Homo sapiens: one gene and its partners. The protein of the gene in region 6 purifies or fractionates together with the protein of the main gene of each other region. This does not show direct contact. Each region holds a gene or a part of one and is shown on either strand. Other genes may lie near its edges.

The links.
Region 1: the proteins of MTSS2 (region 6) and CNN2 purify together in Homo sapiens (affinity purification with mass spectrometry; one large-scale study listed by BioGRID and IntAct). This does not show direct contact.
Region 2: the proteins of MTSS2 (region 6) and GCA purify together in Homo sapiens (affinity purification with mass spectrometry; one large-scale study listed by BioGRID and IntAct). This does not show direct contact.
Region 3: the proteins of MTSS2 (region 6) and CHAMP1 purify together in Homo sapiens (affinity purification with mass spectrometry; one large-scale study listed by BioGRID and IntAct). This does not show direct contact.
Region 4: the proteins of MTSS2 (region 6) and POTEI purify together in Homo sapiens (affinity purification with mass spectrometry; one large-scale study listed by BioGRID and IntAct). This does not show direct contact.
Region 5: the proteins of MTSS2 (region 6) and SLBP purify together in Homo sapiens (affinity purification with mass spectrometry; one large-scale study listed by BioGRID and IntAct). This does not show direct contact.
Region 7: the proteins of MTSS2 (region 6) and AMMECR1 purify together in Homo sapiens (affinity purification with mass spectrometry; one large-scale study listed by BioGRID and IntAct). This does not show direct contact.

What each region holds. Positions count from the first base shown.
Region 1 is NC_000019.10:1,025,390-1,029,407, reverse strand, and holds the start of CNN2 (calponin-2), read right to left. Parts: upstream 2,801-4,018; 5' UTR 2,747-2,800; coding exon 2,684-2,746; intron 1-2,683. UniProt on the Homo sapiens protein: Thin filament-associated protein that is implicated in the regulation and modulation of smooth muscle contraction. It is capable of binding to actin, calmodulin and tropomyosin. The interaction of calponin with actin inhibits the actomyosin Mg-ATPase activity.
Region 2 is NC_000002.12:162,350,632-162,354,131, reverse strand, and holds part of GCA (grancalcin), read right to left. Parts: intron 1,795-3,500; coding exon 1,725-1,794; intron 721-1,724; exon of another isoform or gene 399-720; intron 1-398. UniProt on the Homo sapiens protein: Calcium-binding protein that may play a role in the adhesion of neutrophils to fibronectin. May play a role in the formation of focal adhesions.
Region 3 is NC_000013.11:114,324,503-114,327,822, reverse strand, and holds the end of CHAMP1 (chromosome alignment-maintaining phosphoprotein 1), read right to left. Parts: coding exon 1,542-3,320; 3' UTR 501-1,541; downstream 1-500. UniProt on the Homo sapiens protein: Required for proper alignment of chromosomes at metaphase and their accurate segregation during mitosis. Involved in the maintenance of spindle microtubules attachment to the kinetochore during sister chromatid biorientation.
Region 4 is NC_000002.12:130,488,829-130,492,328, reverse strand, and holds part of POTEI (POTE ankyrin domain family member I), read left to right. Parts: intron 1-1,588; coding exon 1,589-1,659; intron 1,660-3,049; coding exon 3,050-3,094; intron 3,095-3,500.
Region 5 is NC_000004.12:1,692,231-1,695,319, forward strand, and holds the end of SLBP (histone RNA hairpin-binding protein), read right to left. Parts: intron 2,611-3,089; coding exon 2,544-2,610; intron 1,484-2,543; coding exon 1,367-1,483; 3' UTR 501-1,366; downstream 1-500. UniProt on the Homo sapiens protein: RNA-binding protein involved in the histone pre-mRNA processing.
Region 6 is NC_000016.10:70,676,054-70,679,553, forward strand, and holds part of MTSS2 (protein MTSS 2), read right to left. Parts: intron 3,271-3,500; coding exon 3,262-3,270; intron 3,190-3,261; exon of another isoform or gene 3,079-3,189; coding exon of another isoform or gene 3,057-3,078; intron 2,357-3,056; coding exon 2,199-2,356; intron 1,847-2,198; coding exon 1,739-1,846; intron 926-1,738; coding exon 828-925; intron 1-827. UniProt on the Homo sapiens protein: Involved in plasma membrane dynamics. Potentiated PDGF-mediated formation of membrane ruffles and lamellipodia in fibroblasts, acting via RAC1 activation. May function in actin bundling.
Region 7 is NC_000023.11:110,210,086-110,213,585, forward strand, and holds part of AMMECR1 (nuclear protein AMMECR1), read right to left. Parts: intron 1-3,500.

The DNA of each region.
Region 1 (4,018 bases), on a different chromosome or scaffold from region 6:
GCTGGACCTGCCTGGGATGATTTGGGTTAGGGTCCCCTGAGCTAGACCTGCCTGGGATGATTTGGGTAGGGTCCCCTGACCTGGACCTGCCTGGGATGATTTGGGTTAGGGTCCCCTGAGCTGGACCTGCCTGGGATGATTTGGGTTAGGGTCCCCTGAGCTGGACCTGCCTGGGATGATTTGGGTTAGGGTCCCCTGAGCTAGATCTGCCTGGAATGATTTGGGTAGGGTCCCCTGAGCTGGACCTGCCTGGGATGATTTGGGTTAGGGTCCCCTGAGCTGGACCTGCCTGGGATGATTTGGGTTAGGGTCCCCTGAGCTGGACCTGCCTGGGATGATTTGGGTTAGGGTCCCCTGAGCTGGACCTGCCTGGGATTATTTGGGATAGGGTCCCCTGACCTGGACCTGCCTGGGATTATTTGGGTTAGGGTCCCCTGACCTGGCACCTGCCTGGAAACAGCTCGTAGCCCAGAGGAGGCAAAGGCGGGGAGGCCCCCCAGTACCAGCTCACAGCCCACCCAGCTTGGCTTTCCACGCCCGGGGGCAGCCCCGCCCCGCCGGCAACTTTGATCCCGAGGAATGAGAACGGTGGCTGCTGGGTACACAGCCCTGCCTTGCCCAGCTGCGCCGCGTCTCTGCCGGCTCAGGGGCCCAGGTCCCCTGGCCCCACCCCCAGCCGCTGCCGTCCTCCCCCACCCCCGCCCCCCCGCTGCCCGGCCGCCGGCCTTCCAGCACATTCCTGTTCACCACAAACTGCCAGGAATGCGCGCTGCCTCCCCGGCTAAATCTGAACCAGCTGTTCCCAGCGGGTCCGGACCCCCAAGCCGGGATGCAAGGCCGCAGACACTGTGGATCCGAGCTGCCTCCGTGCCGTCCAGCCGGGAGTCAACTGAGCCACGGGGAAGCGGGGCGGGGGGCGGGTCTCTGGCTGTTTCAAGCAGCCGGTAAAGCGGGTGTGAGCGGGAAGCCAGGGGGAAGCTGGTTTCTAATTGGGAGGCGACCCTTCCGTGACCCTGGCAAGCTGGCCGACGCCTCGCCCACCCTCCAAACGGACAGACTGAGGGTTGCGCGGGGAGCCTGCTAAGCGGCTCTTCCAGCCTCTGTCCTCACCCCCGCCAGGGCAGGTATCAACCTGCCCCCACCCCACCCCACCCCGTCTCCGGAAGCCGCCCCACCCTCCTGTGCCCGCTCCCACTTCCGCAGGCCCAGCAGGTACTGGGTTCCGGTCTTGGCCCTGTCACTTGTGGGCTGTGTGGCCCTGGGCAGCTGGAACGACGTCTCTGGGTCCCTGTGGACACCGGTGCCCTTAGCCGGCTGTATGCAGGGTGCGGCAGGGTGCCCACCCCACTGCACGGGGGGCTCTATGAATGCAGGGTGCAGATGGCCCCTTGAAGGAGGAGTCGTGAGCCCCGGGCTGGGGACCCTGGCTCAGGCCTTGACCACCCCAAGCCTCAGCCTCCCTTTTTGGCCAAGAGCTGGTCTGAAGGCTTGCAGGGGCTCACAGCGGGGAAGCAGGAATTCTCCCTCCAGTCTGCCGGCCCTGGAGTGCCGCCGGGCAGGTGGCTGTTGGGGCTGGCAGGGCCGGTGCCCTCAGAGCGTGCAGAGGCAGTTTCCCCTGCAGAAGTCAGCTGTAAGGACACCTTCCCAGGTGCCCAGTGGGCGTCGGGGGAGGGGGTGGGCGGGGACGACACCCCCCTCCAGCTGGAAGGTCCTGGAGGGTCAGGTCCCGGTCCTGTCCGTGGGTCTCGCATCACAACCCCCGCCCCCCACTTTCCCTGGGAATCCTGTCCAGGACCCTGCTGTGTGACCCTGCAGAAGTGTCTGGTCCTCTCTGAGCTAGAACCACAAGTGCTCTCTTAAAAAGTGTCTCCCCTAGCCCTGGCTTGTTTTTAATTATAGAGATGGGGTTTCGCCATGTTGCCCAGACTGGTCTCGAACTCGCTGGGCTCAAGCCATCCACCCAGCTCCGCCCCCCAAAGTGCTGGGATTACGGGCGTGAGCCCCCGCGCCCTGCCGGGCCCCAGCTCTTCTTTCGAGGCTGCAAAACCCCACATATCTCAGGGCCACCTTCAGAGAACCTCTTTGTTATCCGTTTAAATTAGTCAGATGGGAGACAAAGACCGTGCAAAGCGGCTACCGCCCCTCCCCCCAAGACACCCCCAAGGTGTCCCAGAGGCCAGGAAATTCCTGTTTGTGGGGGGGTAACACTTCTCAAAAACCACTCGGCCATGCCCCTTCCCCTCCCAAAGCTAAGAGGCCCCAAAAGCAGAAGTGTGGCCAGGAGATGACGGGGTTGCTGGGGTCCCCCCCAGACCCCCAGAGCGTTGTCGGACCTTGAACGGACCTTCTCGAAGGTTGAGTGGGCGCCAGGGGCTTCACACGTGGGGGTCCTGGGGCCATGGCGAGGGGACGAAGTCAGACCCAACTACCCCTAGATGTTGGGGGGGGGAATGGGTCACTCGTCCCCCAGATCTCAGACCTGGGTGCTCCCCAAGATTCGCGGGAGCCTCAGGGGGTGCCCGCAGACATCCCCCCACCAGGCGTCAGGGAGAACAAGGGCCCGTCCGCCCCGGGTCTCCAAGCTCCCTGCCCGGGAGGTGCCGGGGGCGCCTGGGGGCTCCTGCACCGGTCGGAGCGTGCGACGGCCGCGCTGTCGGGGGGACAAGGGGCGCCCCTCACTCACCCGGTTCTTGACCTCGGCCGACAGCCCGTACGAGGGGCCCTTGTTGAACTGCGTGGAGCTCATGGCTGGCGGGCGGGCGGCGGGACGGGGCCGCACAGGACGGGACGGGACGGGACCGCCGGGCTGGCGCGGGGTTGGGACGCGCCGGGCTCCGCGCGCCACGCCCCCGCCGCTGATTGGCCCGGAGCGCAAATGTCCTTATAAGGCCTGGAGGCGCCGAATTCCTGCGGCCGCGGACTTCCTGAGCCCCCTCGGTCGCCCCCGGACCCCCGCCTGGGCACAGCACCCCCGTCACCAGAGGCCTGGAGGGGCCCCTCGCCCCCTTTGATGCCACGGGAAACTGAGGCAGGGAGGGGCCGAGGCCGCCGGGACGTGGCACTCCTGCGGGCTCTCTGCTCAGAGCTCGTGGGCGGCTCTCACTCTTTCTCCATCTCAGACTTCTCTTCTGCCAGAAAGGGGAGGGGAGAAGGCTACCTTTGGGGCAGGAATGAGGGCCCCTCTCTGCCACTTAGAGGCGTCTAACCCCTTCCCAGGGAACTCTACTAGCTGGGAGGTGGACCAGGGAACCAGGGCAGGTTCCTCAGAGAAGGGGCCATTGGAGCTGGGGCTTTGTTGGATGAGTAGGAGTTTGTCAGTCCAAAAGAGAATAGGATTCTTACTGGGTGCGGTAGCTTGCACCTGGAGTTCTAGCTACTTGGGAGGCTGAGGCCGAAGGGGGAGGATCCGTTGAGCCCAAGAGGTCGAAGCTGCAGTGAGTTATCATCACAACATGACGCTCCAGCCTGGGCAGCAGAGCAAGAGCCTCTCTCTAAAAATAAATAAATAAATAAAAATAAAAATCCGAGTGGCTCACGCCTGCAATCCCAGCACTTTGGAAGGCCGAGGCGGGCGGATCACTTGAGGTCAGGAGTTCCAGACCAGCTTGGCTAACATGGCGAAACTCCGTCTCTACTAAAAATACAAAAATTAGCCGGGCATGGGGGCACATGCCTGTAATTCCAGCTACTGAGGAGGCTGAGGTGGGAGGATCACTTGAAGCCAGGAGGCGGAGGTTGTAGTAAGTCGAGATCGCGCCACTGCACTCCAGCCTGGGCGACAGAGCAAGACTCCGTCTTAAAAAAAAAAACAAAAAAAAAAAACACAAAAAAACCCTAATAATAATAAATTATTAAAAAGTCTCCGGGACAGTCTCCTGCCAGGCAGTGCTGGCTCTCAGGAGACCTTAGCTCTGGCCCAGCCCATGCCCAGGAAGACAGAGCTGGCACAGACCAACCCCCAACCCGGATTCCCTGTATGAGCCAGCACAGGCGGAACCCCCCCACCCCGCCCACCCTG
Region 2 (3,500 bases), on a different chromosome or scaffold from region 6:
AACCAAAACAAGCAAAATGAGGAGAAAAAACAATCTGGAAAAAACAAAGGTTATATAGGAAGAAAAAACTTTAAAAATATATTAATAGTCTCAGAGAGATAAGGGACAATATCACATTCATGAAAATAGAACAGAAGCTCTTGGATATTAATGAAAAGCAGAAATGAAAGACTCAATAGAAGGTTTAGGAAATAAAGTTGAGGAAAATTCCCAAAAAGTTCAGCAAAAAAAAATGATAGGAGGAAAAAGATGATAAAAGTAGAAAACCCAGTGAAAACAAAAAGCATTCCAAGAAACAGAAAATATCATTGAAGAAAACGTCCTACATCTAAAGCAAAGGAGTTTCCAGGCTGAGAATACCATCTGAGTTCCCCACACAACACAACTAGGTACTTTACCATCAAATCGCAGAATACTAAAGACAAAGATCTCACAAGTTTCCAGAGAGGAATAACAAATCACATCACATCCAGGCAGGAAAGAGAAAGATAATGCAACAAGGGACGCTAGAAACAATGGAGCAATACCTTTAAAATTCTACTTGAGAATCATTTGTAACCTAGAATTCTATACCTGGCCAATCAATTCTGAAGGTAGAATGAAAGCATTTTTAGATACATAAGCTCTCAAAAATTTATCTCCCATATATTCTTTTGTTTGTTTTTGAGATGATGTCTCACTCTGTCACCAGGCTGGAGTGCAGTGGCCCAATCTCAGCTCACTGGAACCTCTGCCTCCTGGGTTCAAGTAATTCTCCTGCCTCAGTCTCCCGAGTAGCTGGGACTACAGGTGCGTGCCACCACGCCCAGTTAATTTTTGTATTTTTAGTAGAGACGGGGTTTCACCATGGTGGCCAGGGTGCTCTCGATCTCTTAACCTCATGATTCGCCCACCTCAGCCTCCCAAAGTGCTGGGATTGCAGGCATGAGCCACGGCGCCTGGCCGTATTTTTTTTTTATATTAAGAAGCTGCTTAACTATACATTTCACTAAAATAAGATAATGAATTTTTTAAAAGAGGACAACAAGAGATGGAGTAAAAAGGAGATCTAACTCAAGAGAAACGGGGAAACCAGCTTCAGAATGATGGTGAAAGAATCCCAGTATGACAGCTACACATAAAAAACTGCATATCCCAGAGTTCTAGGATAATACCTGACAACTAGTGATTTCAAGAAAAGCAAAACATTATATAAAAAGGAAAAGTAATCATACATTATCATAAGATACAGCTATAAGCAGCATTCAGATAGTAAAAATAAGGTAAAGACTAACATACCTAACAAAAGTTACTATATATTATAACTACATTGGAAGGACAGGAGGATGGGAAATGTTCCTCTGTGGAGTGCAGAGACAGGGGAGAGTTTAAGGTTAAAATAAAGTGAAATCCTCATCTTTCATAGCAGGATATCAATAGATAATCATAAAATCCAAAAATCAATCGTGAAAAAAATATTCTATCTTGAAATCTGGAAGCAAATTTCAAAAGAATCAGATTTTTAAAAGTCAAAAGAAGTGTCCTCTATGAGCAGTTAATGTTAAGGAGACAGGAATACACAATGAACAGTTATTTTCATAACGAGTTTTACAGTTATTTGACTCCTTAAACTATGTGCATGTATAACTGTGATAATTTTTTAAACATTTTAATTACAGGGACAAAAAAAGTAAGAAAATAAACTTCCTATTATAATTTCAACAAAAGGGGAAAAAAGATCTCACGAGAGTAAGTTCCATTAATTCCAGACTGTGTCAAACATCTCTGAAGTTCTTCAGCATCCACTTCACCATCCTGTTTAAAAATAATTATGACCTAATTTAATGTGCAGTTGTATAAAAGCATATTAAAATGTCAATTGACTGTTCTAGGCCAATCAAGACATATGCATTCTTTGAAACATTACTCTATAATTAACTACAAAATTCTAGAGATAATTACTGACAACAAAGGCATATTACAAAATATCATACCACAGAAATAATTTCTTCCACTTCTGAAGAATAGCACAATTACCCTGTTCTATAATGGTTCAAGACAATCTCATAAGAGTCATTGTACTTCTATTTTAAACAGTTAGAAAAACAGTTAAACAGTTAGAAAAATGCCTAAAATGTGTTCAGAAAAGTCTCGAAAACATCCCCACTCATGCTGTTTTGGGAGGAGATTATTTATAAATAATACTGAAGCTTTAACTGGAAGGGGAAAATATATTTTCCCCCACCATTACCCCTAGCAAAATTCTAGAGTCCCCCTGTATCTTGCTGCTATTCTTCTGATTACTGCCCAAACAAGTCTTGCCTGAACTTACTACAGAAAATAAAGTTTTAAAATGCAAACAAGAAATCACAATGGAAATGAAATAGGTTGAGTATTCTCATTATGATTTAGTACCTCATCCTGTTTTTGACAAAAATAAGTAATTCCTTTGGAACCATCACAAACATTGGCACAAATGCAAAATGTAGCTATGATGAAGGATCAAGGAGGCAAATTTAAAACCTACTCTTCATAAGAGATCCAAGAAACAACAAAACAAAAAACTTTTCTAAACTACTTCTAAGAAATATTATTAACACTCACATTCTAATGGATTTTTGGCAAAAGAACCCCTTACAAAACTGCAGCTGTTCTAATAGAAATTACAAAATACTAAGCAGCATTCTTCCCTTAACTGAATTAGGTAGCATTAGCGGTAGAAAGCTGAATGTCCTAATTAAATTACAAGAGCATCAGGTAGAGAATTAACAAAAATCAATTGCCCTTCGTTAGGCAGCAAGATTTTAAAATGATATCCAACTTCAAGTCCTATTTGTTCAGTTACTCAATTTGAGTCTCCACTTACTTATCTATAATACAAAGGTAGCTGTGTCATGCCCACATCACAGTTGCTGTGTGGAAAAGTAGAAGCAGTGTGCATACAAAAGTTAAAGTTGTTGGTATTACTGTGATGCATGTGTCTGTATGTATGAAGACAGAAACCAGAATTTCCCCAAATTAATTGATGATTTAATCCTTACTGTTTAGAATACTTCATCCTATAAATAAGAACACTGCAGAAACCTTTAATCAGGTGTTTTTCATAGAGCATTATTAATTATGAGGCCCATCAAAAAAGGATATGGCTGTAGATGTAAGTTCAGTAGTTGGGTTCCAGGAGCAGTATACCTAAGTCAGATGTTGCACCTGATCCCTCAAAGCTAGGTAGAACTCAATATATGAAAAAATACAGTCTAAATATTTAGACTAAAAATTGAAAATGGGATAGTTAATTCATCCATACGAAACATTTATCAAATGTTTATATATTCCTAATATCTACCTGTCAAGTAGGGAAAATATGACCAGAACCCTGTCTTTATGGAGTTTATTTATTCAAAAGCACAAGACTGGGAAATTTAAGGAAAGTATCAAATAGTTCAAACATAGCGAATTTATTGCTGACAATTAAAATGCTGAAATAGTTCAGCAGTCAAAAAGAGTTTCCAAATATATGTCCA
Region 3 (3,320 bases), on a different chromosome or scaffold from region 6:
CAAGGATCGGTCTCAAAATAAAAAACAAAAATAAAAAGAGAGAGATTTGAGTGTGGACACAGAGCCAAACCATATTACTAAATATTGTTAAGCTATCCCAACGGGCATATTAATAGGGAAGCCAGCGGGTGGGGAACTAGGACAAAACTGTTCCTTGTTAAAAAAATGTCTGGGAATAGCTAAAATAAACCCAGTACAGCATCTCAATCCTGGCTACACATCAGAATGCTTTGAGATTAAATGCCTCACACTGTTTAGAGGCAGGCAGGATAGGCAACCACTGGAATTAAAAAACCTTTCATATGAAAGGATGAGGTTTTTGACACAGAGTCCTCCCTATACACGCATTCCCCTAACTTACTTGACCACAGAACTTGGAGAAAACACAGCTAAGAAAATGCTGCTCCAGATAAGAAAACTATGTTGAAAACATGGAAATAATGGATCTGTATATCATACAATGAAAACTACACAAAAGAAAACACACATGAAGATGTTGCTGACATGAAAACCTTTCTTTTTAATTTGGTTGATACACATTTGACAAAATATTTTAGAATAAAATAATCCATGAACAGGTACAAGGTATTTACAGTAACATAATTGAAAAACATAAAATCGATATATTTCTTTAACAGAAATGTCTATAAAATTTTCTACTGTGAATCTGGAAGACTTTCAGTTCCTACTTATCAACCTGGTCTTAAGCCCCAACAGGCGACATGTAAGGCCCAGGAGTAGGATATACAAACTCTAACACATTTGGCAATTAAGAATCATCTATTAGTGTGAGCTGGCAGGCGGTGGGTGGGGGGTGGGGATGGGGAGGGAAGAACCAGATCTTAGGGTAAGATACAGAATGGAAGACTCCACTGAAAACAACTATGGACAAGAAAGATCTAAAATCACACTTATCTTTCACTTGTCTCCTGTGGGAGAAGGCTGCAAACTATTTTAAAGACTTAGTCAATTTTTCCCATTAGCAGAAAATCAGCAACCCTGAGACTCCAACATTTCATGACATAAAAGCTAATAAACATCTAGAAGCTGATTAAGATTTATAAACTAATTTTACATCAGATAGAAAATAACTCTTATGATTTAAAAATACATGTAAGGAAACAAAATTTCTCAAATTTATTTTTCATGCCTAATTCTTAAACATTTCAACTAATATTTTCTATTGTCTGAAATTAGTTCCACACACAGATACACTTTAACTGAATGCTTTGAGTACAACTTGCTCTTGATTATTAAATGGAATGCCTACTTCCTTGTATTATTATTCATACATATTTAAAAGAAATGAGAAGTTTAATCCATCTGGACTATACAGAAATTTATTGACTTACAAGATAGTCACATAGACAGAGACCAGAAAAAAATGATCAAATGCTCATTCTTAGTAACACAACTGAGACAGTGAAACACGGTACACCATACATGTCATCTACTGATCCAACTATGCTATCTGATAAGCTATACTTACAAAGAATGGTTCCAACAAACACCTTTGTAGAACAAATATTCACACTGTGTTATCAAATTTGCTGCTCCTCCAGTGGCGGTTCAAGAGCTTCCATTAGCTTTTTATTTGCCTCTTCATTATGCCGGCTTTGACAATGAGTTAAATGTTTCTTAAAACCTCTTGGGAAATTTGATTCAAAATTACAACGTGGACATTTAAGTAAACTTTGCCCATGGGCTGCTACATGATTTTTAAGGAGAGATTCCAAAAGAAAAGCCTTTCCACAGATTGTGCATTTGTAAGGGCTATGAACATTATGCTTATTAACCAAATGATGCAAAACAGCACCTTTTTTCATAGCACGACAGCAACAAATTTTGCAATAATACTTTCCTTTTCCACGCTTCATGTATTTTGCAATCTCCTCTTCAGAGATAAAAGCTTCTTTTTCTTCAGTAAACTGTAGCACATTTCTAGACTGCTCTGGACTAGTCATGTCCATTTTGTTCTCTTTGCTAAAATCAATGGATTCCACATCAACCTGCTCTTGATCACTGCTTGATTCCTGGCCCTTAATATCCATCGCATCCAAATCTGTTTTTATGTACTCACTACTACTAAGCTCAGCGTCTGAGCTCTCTTGGTTGTCTTTCTTGAGCTTCTTTGAGGAAGGAAATAAAGTATCTTCTAAGAGTTTCTTAGGTGAAGCTAGAAGTTCTTCCTGAACCAAAATATCACATTTTTGATCATCTATGGCATCTATTTGTAGTTCATCACCAAGCTCAACAGCCTTCTGTGATTCTGAGAATAGAGCAGATTTGGGGAGTTCAGGGAAAAGGGCATGCTTCCGGGGCTCTGGAAAAAGGGCACGTTTGCGTGCTTCTGGAGAAGCAGGAGGGGCTGTTTTGGCAGGCTCGGGAAACAGGGCAGGTTTTCTAGGCTCAGTATCGATAGAGAGAACAGGCTTCCAGATATCTGAGGCTGCTTTGGGGGACTCAGATGGCCCAGAAGGACCTGGTTTTCGGGTCTCAGGGAAGACAGGTTTCTGAGGCTCAATAAAAAAGGAAGACTTCCAGAGATCAGGAGAACCACCACGGGAACTTTTCTGGGACTCAGGGAAATCAAGTGAAGCAGGAGAAGTTTTCCGCTGATCAGGAGAAAGCTTCCAAAGATCTGGTGACCCTGAGGGTTTTCTGAGCTCTGGAGATCCTGCTGGACTACGGATCTCTGGGGATAGTGGTGGGCCGGGTTTGCGAAGCTCTGGAGACACTGGGGGAACTGCCTTCCAATGTTCAGGAGACAACGTGGGAGCTGTCTTTCGGAGTTCTGGTGGGCCAGACTTCCATGACTCAGGAGATGCAGGGGGAGACTTCCAGGAGCTGGGTGAGACTGATGAAGATTTCCAGGATGCAGAAGACACAGATGGAGTTGGTTTCCAAGGTCCAGGAGATACAGAAGGAATTGGTTTCCAAGGTCCAGGAGACACAGATGGAGCAGGTTTAGCTGGCTTCCAAGGTCCTGATGATGCTGAAGGATTGGATTTCCAAGGCCTAGGGGACCCAGGTGGCCCTGGTTTCCAAGAGCCTGGTGACACAGCGGGGGCTGGTCTCCTAGGCTCTGGGGAGACAGCAGGGAACGGCTTCCAAGGTTCAGGAGACTCTGAAGGGGATGGCTTCCTTGGCTCAGGGGAGGTAGTCCGGGCTGACTTCCGAGATTCTGGAGATGCAGCTGGGGATGGTCCCCAAGGTTCTGGGGAAGCAGCTAGAACTGGTGACTCTGGAGATGAGGCTGAAGGTGGCCCCAATGTTTCCGGGAAATGAGACTGCTTCTGGGGTTTGGGATTACTAAGAGT
Region 4 (3,500 bases), on a different chromosome or scaffold from region 6:
GCCCTCTACCCCTTTTAATCTGGCTAGTCTCAATATTTAAGTCTCTGCTTGGGCATGTTTTCTAGAAAAGCCATCCCTGACATGCTTTATTTTAATTGTTTTTAAACCCTAATGCCTAGCATGTATTTAGCAGGACTCAATAAGAAATTTCTGAGTAAAATGTGAGTAAGATGATGTGCAAGACTGTCCTCTGCAGTCTTGGAGCAGACGGGACAGACATGTGGAGGAATAATGTAGAGTTCAGGTGGTAAAGATGCAGTAGAAAAATCAGTGAAGTACTAAGGCAGCCTCAAGGAAGGAGGTACCTGTTTATCTGGGGAAAGACATGCAGAATCAAGGAAGACGTTCTCATAGCATTGTTTTAAAAGATAAAAATAAGGATAAGTGTGGTGGCTCACACCTCTAATCCCAGCATTTTGGGAGGCTGGAGCAGGCAGATCACAAGGTCAAAAGATCAGGACCATCATGGCCAATGGTGAAACCCCGTCTCTACTAAAAACACGAAAATTAGCAGGGCATGATGGTGCATGCCTGTAATCCCAGCTTCTCCGGAGACTGAGACAGGAGAATCGCTTGAACCAGGGAGTGTCAGAGGTTGCAGTGAGCTGAGATTGCGCCACTGCACTCCAGCCTGGTGACAGAGCAAGACCCTGGCTCAAAAAAAAAAAAAGAAAGAAAAATGAAAATAAATATGTCTGAATCGTGGAGGGAAACATTTTAGATATTGGGAAGAGATTGTACACTAATAAAGGTGTCAGTAGTAATTTTTGAAATCATTTGTAAGGTACTATTGTTGCAGAAAACAGGAGGCAGGAGAGACCAAGTGGGTGAAACAGGAGGATTTCATTTAGGTTCGCACCAGCTCAGCGGATTTGCATCCGAAAGCTGAGCCCTGAACAAAGACAGGGCTTGGCTTATGTAGGCAAGCTTACAGAAGCAGAACAAAGGCAGTTAATCATATAGTGACAGTTTTGCAACCTCAGCGTAGCTTATGACCTTGCAGCTGCATTGAAGGACAACAGGAACTTGCAAATAATATGCATTTGTAAAAACAGCTCTGAGTGAATGCTGAGGGGAAGGGGAGACAGTAAAGGATTTTGTTTTCTTAACCTTGCTGTGGGATGTCTGGAGCCCATACCTGTGGGCTCTGGCTTCTCAGGCAGGGTCACCATGACCTTTCCTGGGCCCTGCTTGTTACTATCCTTAGAGTCAGACTAGCTAAGTGCGGGAAAACTTGTTTCTCTTTAAAACTAAATTTCCTTTTCTTTACATTTACTGCTTCACTATTAGGAAGTGGAGAACAACATACTGTGTTACCTTATATGTTTCTACTGTATTTTAAAGTTGTGTTTCTGGTGGTTTTGTTCATTTATGTTGGGTGGATGAATTTGTGAGTGAATGACATCAGGTGTCTCCCCAAGTGGTTTGTTGAAGTTTGGGAGAATTATTTCCTAAATAACTATTTCATGAAAAACTAAACACTCAATTTATGAAATAAAATGTTGTCTTAAATCTATTTTTATAAAGGCAATAGTTTTTAACTGTTCTAAGTGGTTCATTTTAACTGAATATATGGATTTCTCAACAGAACAAGACTTAAAGCTGACATCAGAGGAAGAGTCACAAAGGTTCAAAGGCAGTGAAAATAGCCAGCCAGAGGCATGGGAAATTTTAAATTTAAATTTTTGATTTAATGTTGTTTTCTTTGCTTTAATAATATTAGATAGTCCAAATGAAATTACCTTTCAGACTAGGTTTTGAGAATCAATAGATTTTTTAAAGAATTTTTTAATAGATTGTTAAAATTTATTTTAATAAATTCAGTAATCTCATTAACAGAAGAATGGATTCTAATTTAACATTTGATATTTAACTTAAAAAACATAACCACTATAAAATTTAAAATACTCTTATTTTATAATATTTTTATTTAAAATATTCTCATCTGCCTTTTTGATTAGCTTATAGCTAATCTTTCCTTTTGGAATAGAGGCAAAAACAAATTTCAGAACTTTGTTCTTTTATTTTTACAACACCCGAACATGATGAAGAAGGTACATCAATTATTGGATTATGTTATTAAGCAATAGAATTATGAACAATGTAACTCTGATGGTCCCTGAGCTGGATTCATGGTTAAGGAGTAATCATGGCCAGTGATTGAAAATCTGCAGTTTTATATTGTCAGTCACTGATACCAAGGTTAAAAATATATTCTGCCTTATGGTCTCTCATTGACCTCAGCGTTTCTGTTCAGGGAGGGAACCAGGTCATAAAAGCAACACAGCTGCCTATTACAAGAATCATATCTTGCAGAATGGAACCTTTGGTGTTAGTGCACAAACACAATAACATTCTAATTTATTTCAGTTGCAGAAAATTAGTACATATTATTAAAAAAATCTTTATCCACTGTAATTAGTACACATTAGAATATATTAGAACTGGACTTAAGCAGATAATCTGGATACATAACACTATCATATGACAGTATATAATCTCAATTAAAATTTGAGAAATTGCATCTCTTTCTGTTTGGTGTTGATTTCGGCTCCTAATAATTTAAATGGTGCCTACAATCCAGTTAGGAATCTTTTAGAAAAGCACTTCAGTGCACTGTAGGGGCTCACTAGTTAGGGTTTCATGAGGTAAACTCTTTTCAAGTGAGGAAGATTTTGGAACACTACAAATCATCTGCTGATTCATTTTTGGTAGATTTAACACATAACAAGTTTAGTCCAAACAAATGGTGACCAAGTTAAGTTTGCTGGTTCACGTTTTTTTTCTTCGTTGGGCTAAGGTGAATTATTTTTCACATGTTAGTCAGAAGCCAGTAATGTGGCAGTAGCTAAACATAGATTAAAAAGTTAATTCTTAATTTTAATTATTATTTATTTAACAGTTAAATTTTAATTTTAATTATTTTCTAATTTTTCATCGTCCATACTTCATTAGTTAAGAATAAAATTTTTTTAAAACATGCGCTCCAAAAGAGGAGACATCACAGAAACACAACAAGCAAATTAACCTTCTGTTTTTGCCTCTGCAGAAAATGTCTCAAGAACCAGAAATAAATAAGGATGGTGATAGAGAGGTATACCTTCATATTCAAATGTTTCTGTTGAATTAGATTTTTACATTATGTTGTTTAACAAAATGTAGTAAGTGTAGGCATACATGATCCTATCATGTAAGTAGCATAAATCATGAGTGAAAAAGTTAATATTTAACTCAGAAAGAATTCTGTACTTTGAGTTTTCAAGAGATACAAAGCCTAGAGATATTCTTTGATTATTATGGAACAATCCTGAATGGTGCCATAAAATGCTAGGTAATGCCACTTTAGGAGCTTTGGACCAATCATTTTATCTTTCTTGGTTTTAGTCTGATTATCAATAGATAATGTGGCTAAAGAAGATAGCTTCTTATTCTGTGTATCTTCCAGCTAGAAAATTGTATGGCTATTCAATGTGAAATTTGGGGAGCATCTCATTTTCTGG
Region 5 (3,089 bases), on a different chromosome or scaffold from region 6:
AGGGCACCCTCAGACTGATGATTATCCTGCTGCAGGGTCTCTCCCAAGAGACAGGGAAGGCTGTCATGCCAGTGCTGATGAATAAGCATCAGACCAAATGTGACATGTGACACCTATTAAAGAAGGCCCCCGGCCACACGCAGTGGCTCAAACCTGTAATCCCAGCACGTTGGGAGGCCGAGGCAGGCAGATCACTTGAGGTCGGGAGATCGAGACCAGCCTGACCAGCATGGAGAAATCCTGTCTCTACTAAAAATACAAAATTAGCTGCGTGTGGTGGCACATACCTGTAATTTCAGCTACTTGGGAGGCTGAGGCAGAAGAATCGCTTGAACCCGGGAGACAGAGGTTGTAGTGGGCCATGATTGCACCATTGCACTCCAGCCTGGGCAACAAGAGCGAAACTCTCAAAAAATAAAATTAAAAAAATAAAGAAGGCCCTTTACCCAGCGCCACTCACTGAGTGCCACTTGCTTCAGACACAAGAAAGGCAGACACAATTCTGACCCTCCAAACATGTCAGCTCTCACGGCAGCTGGCCCACCTGGCAACAGCCCCAGTCAGTGAAAGAGGGTTCTTTCCTTTTTATTTTTGCAATATCCCATACAAAAGCAATAGAAACGTAACAGTCTTAACAAGAAGTTTACAATTGAATATTTGAACAGAAAATCTGTACACATTATCATTTACAGCAATTTTACATGGTAAATTAACTGATTGTTTTAAAATGTTCTTTCTAAATCGCTCCACTCTGCTGCCCTAACTCTTGGAGTATTCTAAAGAGTCTAACTAGTGCTATTTACAAGTACCAAATTAAGACCATATAACTTACATAAAACTCATTAGTTTAATAGCTCAATTTAACAATGTCTGACTTCAGAATGCTGTTATGACATATTGATAAAAGGCCAAAAATTAAGTTTCCATAAAGATATTAAAGGTGTCTGAGAATACTTTGATGCCTATAAAAGTAGCTGACTCTCAATTGGTCCCATGGATTACATGGTTAAATCCAAAACAGTCCACCTGACAAGCAATAACTGAAGATGCCTGTGGAAAACCAGTTATGTAGACGTGTCAGCTTACCCTGGAGGACAACAGGGATTACGCAATTAAGCTCGCTGGAAGAGAGCTTCAAGTACTTTCTTGGACTTAGCTCCATTTACAATTTAAAACATGCAAAATATACTCACTATACATAAAATTAATGTTTCTTAAGAAAGTAAGGCAAAAATAATTCAGCATGAGCTAATGGACTGCTAACAGAGAAACCACCAGGTACAAGTGCACACACATGCTTGGTGCCTGGCCAGCCTTCCACCTAGTCGGGGAGGAGCTGTTTCTCTTCCTGGCCGCCAGGGGGCAGTTAGCTCATGGCTGAGAAGTCTCTCAAGGGTTCAGTTAAACAAGCTTCCAAATCAAACTCATCCTCCACTTGACTGTCCATGTGTCTCACCTTGGTGGGTGTGCCAGAGTACACATCCTGGAAAACAGAAGCATGGCTCGGTTGACATTCATCTCACCCTGAAAACAGGGGCCCCTTCCTACACCCCACTCCTTATGTGGTAAATCATGTGATGTAATGCACAGCAAGGTGTACACTTCACGTGCAACTGAGACAGATTTTAATAATAACACTGCAAAGAGAAACCACATGTACCATTTACAAGACACTGACGTTTAGATGTGCACACATCCCATTGTGCTGGGATTACAGGAAGGAGTCACTAGTCACTGTGCCTGGCCATGTACATAGTTTATAAGCACAGAAAGAATTGTAAAAGCCTAGACAAAACCACAAATAGTGGCTGTCTCAGGACAGGAGACAGTATTTAAACTGATACATTTAAAAACGGTTTTCTTTTCTCTTGAGACAGAGTCTCACTCTGTCACACAGGGTGGAGGGCAGTGGTACAATTTCGGCTCATTGCCACCTCTGCCTCCCGGGTTCAAGTGATTCTCCTGCCTCAGCCTCCTGAGTAGCTGGGATTACATGCCTGCATGACCACACCCAGCTAGTTTTTGTATTTTTAGTAGAGACTGGGTTTCACTATGTTGGGCAGGCTGGTCTTGAACTCCTGACTTCAGGTGATCTGCCTGCCTCAGCCTCCCAAAGTGCTGGGATCACAGGCGTGAGCCACCACGCGCAGCACATGGTTTTCTTTCTTTTTTTTTTTTTGAGACAGAGTCTTGCTCTGTTGCCCAGGCTGGAGTGCAATGGCGCCATCTCAGCTCACTGCAACCTCCACCTCCTGGGTTCAAGCTATTCTCCCACCTCAGCCTCCTGAGTAGCACGGACTACAGGCACCCACCATCATACCTGGCTATTATTTGTATTTTTGTAGAAACAGGGTTTCACCATGTTGGCCAGGCTAGTCTTGAATTCCTGACTTCAGGTGATCCGCCTGCCTTGGCCTCCCAAGGTGCTGGGATTACAGGCGTGAGCCACCGTGCCCAGTCCAAACTTCAGTTTATAAGGCAGCATGTGTTATTAACAATTCACCTGCAACCCCCAAGCTGAAAGACTTATCCAAAGTACTTACAAAGTCATCCTGAGAGCTGGTCTGGGGCTCGGAGCTGCTTTCTGCAGATTCAAGGTCTACAGGGTGTCTGTTAAACAAGATCCAACATGTGCGTCAGGCACTAACTTAACAAAGCCAGGAGACGGGGCGCTACAGACAAACCCCATCCATATGGTACAGCCACAACACTGACAGTGTGCCCGAGGCTCCCTGAGGGGTCAGCTTTCAGTGACTATTTGACAGACTTAATCCCAGCCCAATCAATCCAGCAAAGAGAAAGCGGATGGCAATGAGAAGCAACAAAAAGATCTGCTGGGCTCACCACACAAGCATCCTTGGAAACAGAAACACTCATAAGCCCAATTTTTGAGGGGGAGAAATGAGCACTGTGATGAACATACTATGCATTATCACTAATTTTTCCAAGTTTCTACTCAGAGAATGGGACAATGGTGTCACACTGGGGGAAAAAACCCAAATGACATCTGTCAGGACAAACTGGTAAAGCCACTTACAATCGTTTCAAACATGCCAGTCTCTAAAAAATTTCCCAGCACAGAGGAGAAA
Region 6 (3,500 bases):
GGTAGTAGCTGATTGCTGTGCCTGGCTTCTCCCAAGCTCTGGATGTCCAGCCAGTGATTCTGGGGAGAGGGGTGCCTGGCAAAGGGGGGCCCCCACCAGCACTTCACTCTGTGCTTACTGTCCTCCCCACCCAAGGAAGCTTGAACCATCAATGTCTCCTCCAAACCCAGCCCCAGTGCCCAGCCAAGGAAAGGCCCCTGATCCTGAGCCTGGCTAGTGACTGCGAGATCCTTGGCCTCTCCCCAGCTGTGTGAGGCTCCCGGGGCTAGCCTGGGCCAAGGCTCCAAATGCGGCAGCTGCCTCCATGGGAACCAGCTCTTAGGAGCCAGCCAGGCTGGAGTGTCCTATACCTTATGGCCCCAACACTTGTTTCTAGAAGCCTTCCCATCTCTCCCTGATCTTTGACTCTTACTATGACCCCACACGGTGCTAGGCCTGGCAGAGTCCAGTGGTTAAATGCTGGGACTTCATGTGTCAGTTTCCCCTTCTGTAAAATGGAGATGACACCATTCCTGATACAGCAGTGTTAGGATTCAATGAGAAAAAATGCATAAAGCACTTAGCACAGCACCTGGCACATAGTGGATGCTCCATAAATGAAGCTGCTACTGCCCCTGCTTCCTATTCTGCCAACAAATGCCTGTGCCAGTAGCAGTCTTGGGATGACAGGGCACATTTTCCCTCTACATATGCAAATTCCTCGGATGGTGTAAAAGTTGTGAATTTTGAGGCCCTGAAGCAATTTCTGATGCAATTTTGCTGGGAACATCCCCACTTCCTCTTGGGATACCGCCCCCCACACCCCTGGGAACCCCACCCCCACTGACCTGCACATGCTGGACTTCCGGGAGCTGGAGCTGCTGGGTGATGAGGGTGGGGTCTGGTAGGACCAGCTGTAGTCCGAGCCCTTTAGGTCTTTGATTACCTGGACAGGGACATGGATGGGGGTCACTGGAGGCAGCTCCTCAGAGCTAGTAGGGCCAGAGGCCCCCCCCCACTCTCTAATTGTGAACCACATCCCAGGAGAAGACCCAGAAATCTGAAGCCCCCTCCCCCAGGCTCCTCCTAATGTGGGGAGCAGGGAGACACCAGAGGACACAGCCTTCTCGGAGCCCCTTCAGCTAACATGCACTGAGTAGAGATTCCGAGCCCAGCCTGGGCTGGGCGAGAGTGACCCTGACACCATGGGGTGCAGGTTGCTCCTGCGCCTCCCTGAGTTTGTTTACTCCTGTTCCTGTCTTAGAGTGGAAGATTCCCTGAGATAACGTGGCAGATGCTGGGCATGCAACAAGTGCCTCTGGAGCGTGCTGCCCGCAGGCTGTGGGACAGGACTGGTCTGAGTGCAGTGGCAGCAGGGCTGGGGTGGGGTGGCCAGGTACGCCTGGGTCTAGGGGAGGGGATGGGGTTTCTGGCCATGAAGGGAGGTGGGGCGTCTCCAGGTTCGGCAGGAGGTCTGCCCACATGGAGCAGGGCAGGCAGACTCTGGGCCTGACTCCATGGATCCAGGACTTCACCCATCTACTCTGAGTCTGAGAACGCTGCTGGCCAGGGCATACCCTCCCCGACCTGGGCAGGTGCTCCGGGATGGCCTGCAGTGGGTGTCAGAAGGGGTCTGGTCTTATGCCCCTAGCTGCCTCCCCCAAATGCCATCCTCTTTTCCCCTTTACTGTTCCCAACCTAGGGCAGCCCATCTCCTCCCTGCCCCTGGCCCTGGCCCTTGGCCAGAGGGCTCCCGCACCTGCTCGCTGGCGGGAGGCAGTTTGTGGGGTTCTGCTGTCAGCACCACCAAGTCGTCGATGATGCCCTGCAGGTGGGTGATCTCTCCCAGCATGGTCAGCTCTCCATTCTGAGGAAGCAGCGAGTCAGACCTGCTGGCCCTATCGCCCACCTGCCCGCCTGCCCAGCGCCCCTGGAGAAGCAGCAGCCCTTGTCGGGCCTCTCCTCTCTCACCCCTCCTCGCTAACCAATGCTGCTCGGGGCTGGTGCAGGTGGGGCCCACACAGCCCAGAGGGCTGGCATGATGGTCTCTCCAGACCAAATCAGTGCATGGTGAGCTATGAGACCTGCCTTTGGGCCAGGAGCATGTGGCCTTGATGCCCCCAGCCAGGGACTGCTGAGAAGTGACCCTTCTTGGAGGTCAGAAGGTCAACCCTGGGCCCAGCCCACCCCTCTGGGGTCTGAGTCCCCAGGAGTCCCACCACCACAGGCTGCAGGAAGGTGATGAAGGTGCAGAAGCGGCCCCGCTCCTCGATCAGCGCCCGGCGCACGGCCTGCTTCTCCGTCTCCTCCAGCAGCAGGTACATGTCGTTGACGTCCTGCAGGGCACTGTCCAGCTGGGGCTGCAGGTCTCCTTTCCCTGGAGGGGTGGGGAGGAGAGGCCTTGCTGGGGATGCCAGCCTGGCTTGCCACACCCACAAATGGGCTCAGACCCTGGTGGTGGCATCTCTCGGCCGTTGGGCTGGGTGTTGCCCTGGGGCCAGGGGACTGCGGAGGGCAGTGAGGACTCTGGGGCTTGTGGAAGGGCTAGTCCCACCAAAGCAGGCAGAGAGGACAGACACACACACAAGAAAGAGGCCAAAGCTGCAAAGCCACGCTGGATTGGGGCATCTCCGGGGGAGGCTCTTGGCGCCCAGGAGCTCTGCCAACACGGAGACTCGCTGGCCTCCACCTGGGGTACCCTCACTGACCCGGGATGGCGCCCCTCACCTCACAAGGTCCAGGGAGGTGGGGCAGAAGCGGGACAAGAGAGAGTGTGGGGCTCAGCTGTAGGCCAGGCCACAGGGGGCGGGGGCCAGGAGAGCTAGGGCTGGGCCTTGGAGGCAGGGAAGGGGTCTCAGTGTGGGTCCCCACTCAGCTCAGGGAGCAGAGCACACAGCAACAGCGACACAAGAAGCAGCAAGAAAGAGAGAGGCGAGAGGATGATGCAGAGGAGATGATGAGATGGCAGGTGAGGAGGTGACAAGTAAGGACGCAGGCCAGCCTGGTGGGGGCGGGGCAGCCAGGGCCTGTGGCCCCCATCCCGCCCTGGCCAACCCCTCCTGGCCTGGCAGACTGACCCAGCAGTGGCCCGGGACTCATCCCTGGCCAGGGACCCCGGGGGCCCCAGGGGGACTGTGCCCCAGGCCCCTCCCTCGTGGACCGACCGCCTTCCTCGCTTCTCCTTGGCCTGGAGAGGTTCCTTCCAATGGCCCTGAGCTGGGGGAGACAGACAAATGCGACAAGGACGGGAGGAGCAGCTGGAGGGACCGACATTTGACTTACCAAGTAGCTCTACAGGAAGGATGTGGGAGGAGAGGAGGAGAGACAGAGAAAGAAAGAATGTGTGAAAGACGCCGGATGGACAGAGCCACTCCTGGGGCGGGGGTGCCTGGGCCTCCTGCTGCCTCCCATAGGGAGGTTCTGGACCAGGTTTGGGGGGAAGGGCAGCTCCCTCTGTCCCACCCAACAGGTTGGAGGGTCCTGTGTCGGGGACAGCGCCCCTCTGGCTGGGATGAAGGCTT
Region 7 (3,500 bases), on a different chromosome or scaffold from region 6:
CTAATGGAAATTTGTATGCATTAAATCACCTTCTAAGAAGTTACTTTACTTTGTACAGCTTGCTTCCCCACTAGGCTTCTTATACATTGACTTGTTGATGCACAGCAAACTCTTTCTAGATGGCCAGGAAGCCTGAAGCCTTCCTTTCCCAACACTCCACGGCACTTAAAAAAAAAAAAAACATTTAAAGTAGAGCATCAAGAAAGGACTAATCTTAATGATAGTGACATCTTATAAAAAAACTCAACGTCCCTGGGAAAATATGTACTGTGAAAAGCATTTTCCTGGATATATGAAGCTCATATTTTTTAAGTTAGAAGAGAGAAAAAACATGATGTATATCATAGTTGGGAAAAACTAACCAAGAGGGGAAACATAACATATACAACCAGAAGTCATTTCGCTGGGTGACTTCATGAGTCATGCTTACCATCTGTGTATGAATGGGAACTCTGTTTTCAATGGCACATTAAGAGGAGCTAAAAAATGTAAACCTTTAAGGGGGGAGTGAGGGTGAAAAGAACATTAACTTCTAAAATATGTGGGAGATAATGACAGTAGCCAATTTATTCATCTCATCTGTTTACTCTCACGAAGGTTGTTACAAAAGCACCCTATTATTAACTGCAACTGAACACGTCAGAATTGAGCTGTGATCACTCAAGAGGTGTGCCTTGGAGGTTGCTTTTAAAGTGAAACACAGCTTTCTGAGTACCAGGAGTCCAACGAGGCTCAAATACAATGACAGATGCTTTGGTACTTTAGGGACAGAGTGAGATCAGGGGCCTGAGGTATAGCTTTATAGTCCAGGGACAGATTTTTGGCATCATACAATAACTGTGCTGGCCAGCCCCACCCAGCATGGGTTGATTCCATGTACGTATTGTGTGCTCCAATGGAACAGTCTGTCTTGGGACCACAATGTATTGCCCAGGTGACAGCTGTATAGAAAAAGTGAGATACCAGTGATCCAGGTAGCCAGATATAGGAGAAAGTGACTAATGGTTTGTGAAAATGTCATTAATCTTTTGAAATCTGATCTAAGGAGTTACTTTAGAATACAGAGAATATTTTTACTTCATGCCTTCAAGTGATCTTGTCTCTAAAGCACAGAAGTAAAAGACGCTTGATTACAATTTAGAAAATATTTTGACTTCTGTCAGCAAATTGCTACATTAGCTTCCACAAAATCACTGGTAACATACTTGCTATACGAATTCTTCTACAAACAAAAAGTTTATTCATTTATATCATCCTGAAAATGAGCACCTATGAGGTGACACACATAGAATCACCCCTCAAGTCAAGCTCCAGTCCATTGTAATGTCTGGTTTTATATCCTTTCAGATTTTTAAAAAGGAAACATGGCTCCCAAACAGTTTAACTCTACAAGTTCCAGGCTATGTCATTTTGGCAGGCTCCAACATGCTGCATGAGTTTTTCTTTCTTTACAAAGCACCATGTCTGTCAATCACCCTGTCATTCAGAATTAAGAAAATGATGTCAACTGAAGAACACAGAACAATGGTGATGAGTTTCCGTGTTCAAACACAAAGCATATCATGTCAGATTTATCTAGGGGAGCAATTTTCCTCATTTAACAACCATTTTAGCCTTGCAGGTAGACATTCCAATTTATCAGCTAATGAAATTTTTCCTCAAATTATTCACTCTTCATCCTTCTCATACCTACTAGGACAATAAGTACATCATGATGTGGGCAATGATCAGTTATTCTTGGAAGGGTGGGGCCACTGCTCTAATTTGTCCTTACTGCCTTTTGTGGATGGCTGTTATTTTTAATGACTGCCCAGATTCCTTCAGAGGCTACCCATAAACACTTATTTTAAATGTTATAATTACTATTCTGAGGAAATAGAACATATGGAAGCATTATTGATTAGTCTGTCAATTCAATATTGACTTGAAATTAGTTACAGCCATTTGTAAAACCATTTGTCAAACATCCCTCACATTATCAAACAGAAGCACTCTAGCTCCTAAAACAAGGTCTAAAGTAAATCCTACTTTCCTACTAACTTCCATTATAAAATTAGAGACATGTTATCAGAAGAAAGTTCCCAAATAGACCGAGTTAAAAACCTTGCATGAAAAAGACAGTAAGATGGTAGCCAGACGCGTGGCAATTCATTTGTTTCCTGATCATCTGAAAACTGGGTGGCTATTACCACTGATCGTGGTCACGTTCCTCATCCTCATGACCACAGGGATATCTGTCTTGGTAGCGAAGATATCTACCTCTATGCTTTGGGACTTCTAGACTTTGCCCTCTTCCTGCTTTAATCTGGGCATTTTCATCCCTTTAATTAGGAATTCCACTGCAGTAACACACTTAACCAGTGGGGGTCAATTCTCAAACTGTACTTCCACCAGAAAAGTGCTACGTTAGAAGCTTCTGTTTGTATAAAACATGCTCATTATCTATCTTCAACTTTAACATTCTGTATTAAAATTCTGTAATAATCTCCTTGTTTTCCCCTGTGGCATAAACATACACAGGACTTCACATTTCAGGTTAAAATTGCATACTTATGGTGAATAGGATATTTTTTCTTGGAAGAAAAGTTGTACCTATTAGTGTGAAAATTCTCGTGAAGCATATACTTTCATAATATAGACTGACTTCTCAAAAAGGAAATTCAAAATATAATTTACTTATATACAAAGATAAACCATAAAGACTTCCCCACAATCTTTTAAATAGTGATTGCATATTCAATATGATCTGTTATGTAACCAAATATTCAGATTTATTGATACAAAGACAGATAAAGAATGGAAAAAAAATTTTAAAAAGTCTTAGTATAATATATAAAAGATAATGGAAAGAAATATTCCAAAATGTTAACAGTAGTTATTCTCAGAATGGTGTAATTATAAATGACTCACATTTCTCTCATTATATGTTTTTAATTTAAAAAATTTTCTTCTTTGATAAGTTAAAATTGCTATTATGAACAGAATATATGTATAAAGTTTATTTTCCATTTTTATTGTAGTAAAATACACATAAAATTTGCCATTTTAACAATTTTAAAGTGTACAATTCAGTGGTATTAAATACATTCACAATATTGTACAACCACCACCACTATCTGGTTCCAGAACTTTCTCACCACTCCAAATGGCAACCCTGTACCATTAAGTAGTCACTTCCCATTTACCCCTCCCCCTAGCCCCTAGCAACTATTAATCTGCTTTCTATCTCTATGGATTTGCTCATTCTGGATATCTCACATAAATGGAGTCATACGGAATGTGGCTTTCTGTGTTTCACTTCTTTCACTTAGCATAATGTATTCATGGTTCATTCATGTTGTAGCATGTATTTCACTTCTTTTTATGGCTGAGTAATGTTCAATTGTATGAATATAACATATTCTATTTATCCATTCATCTGTTGATAAACATTTGGGATGTTTCCACCTTCTGGCTATTGTGAACAGTGCTGTTATGAACATTCATGCACAAGTTTTTGT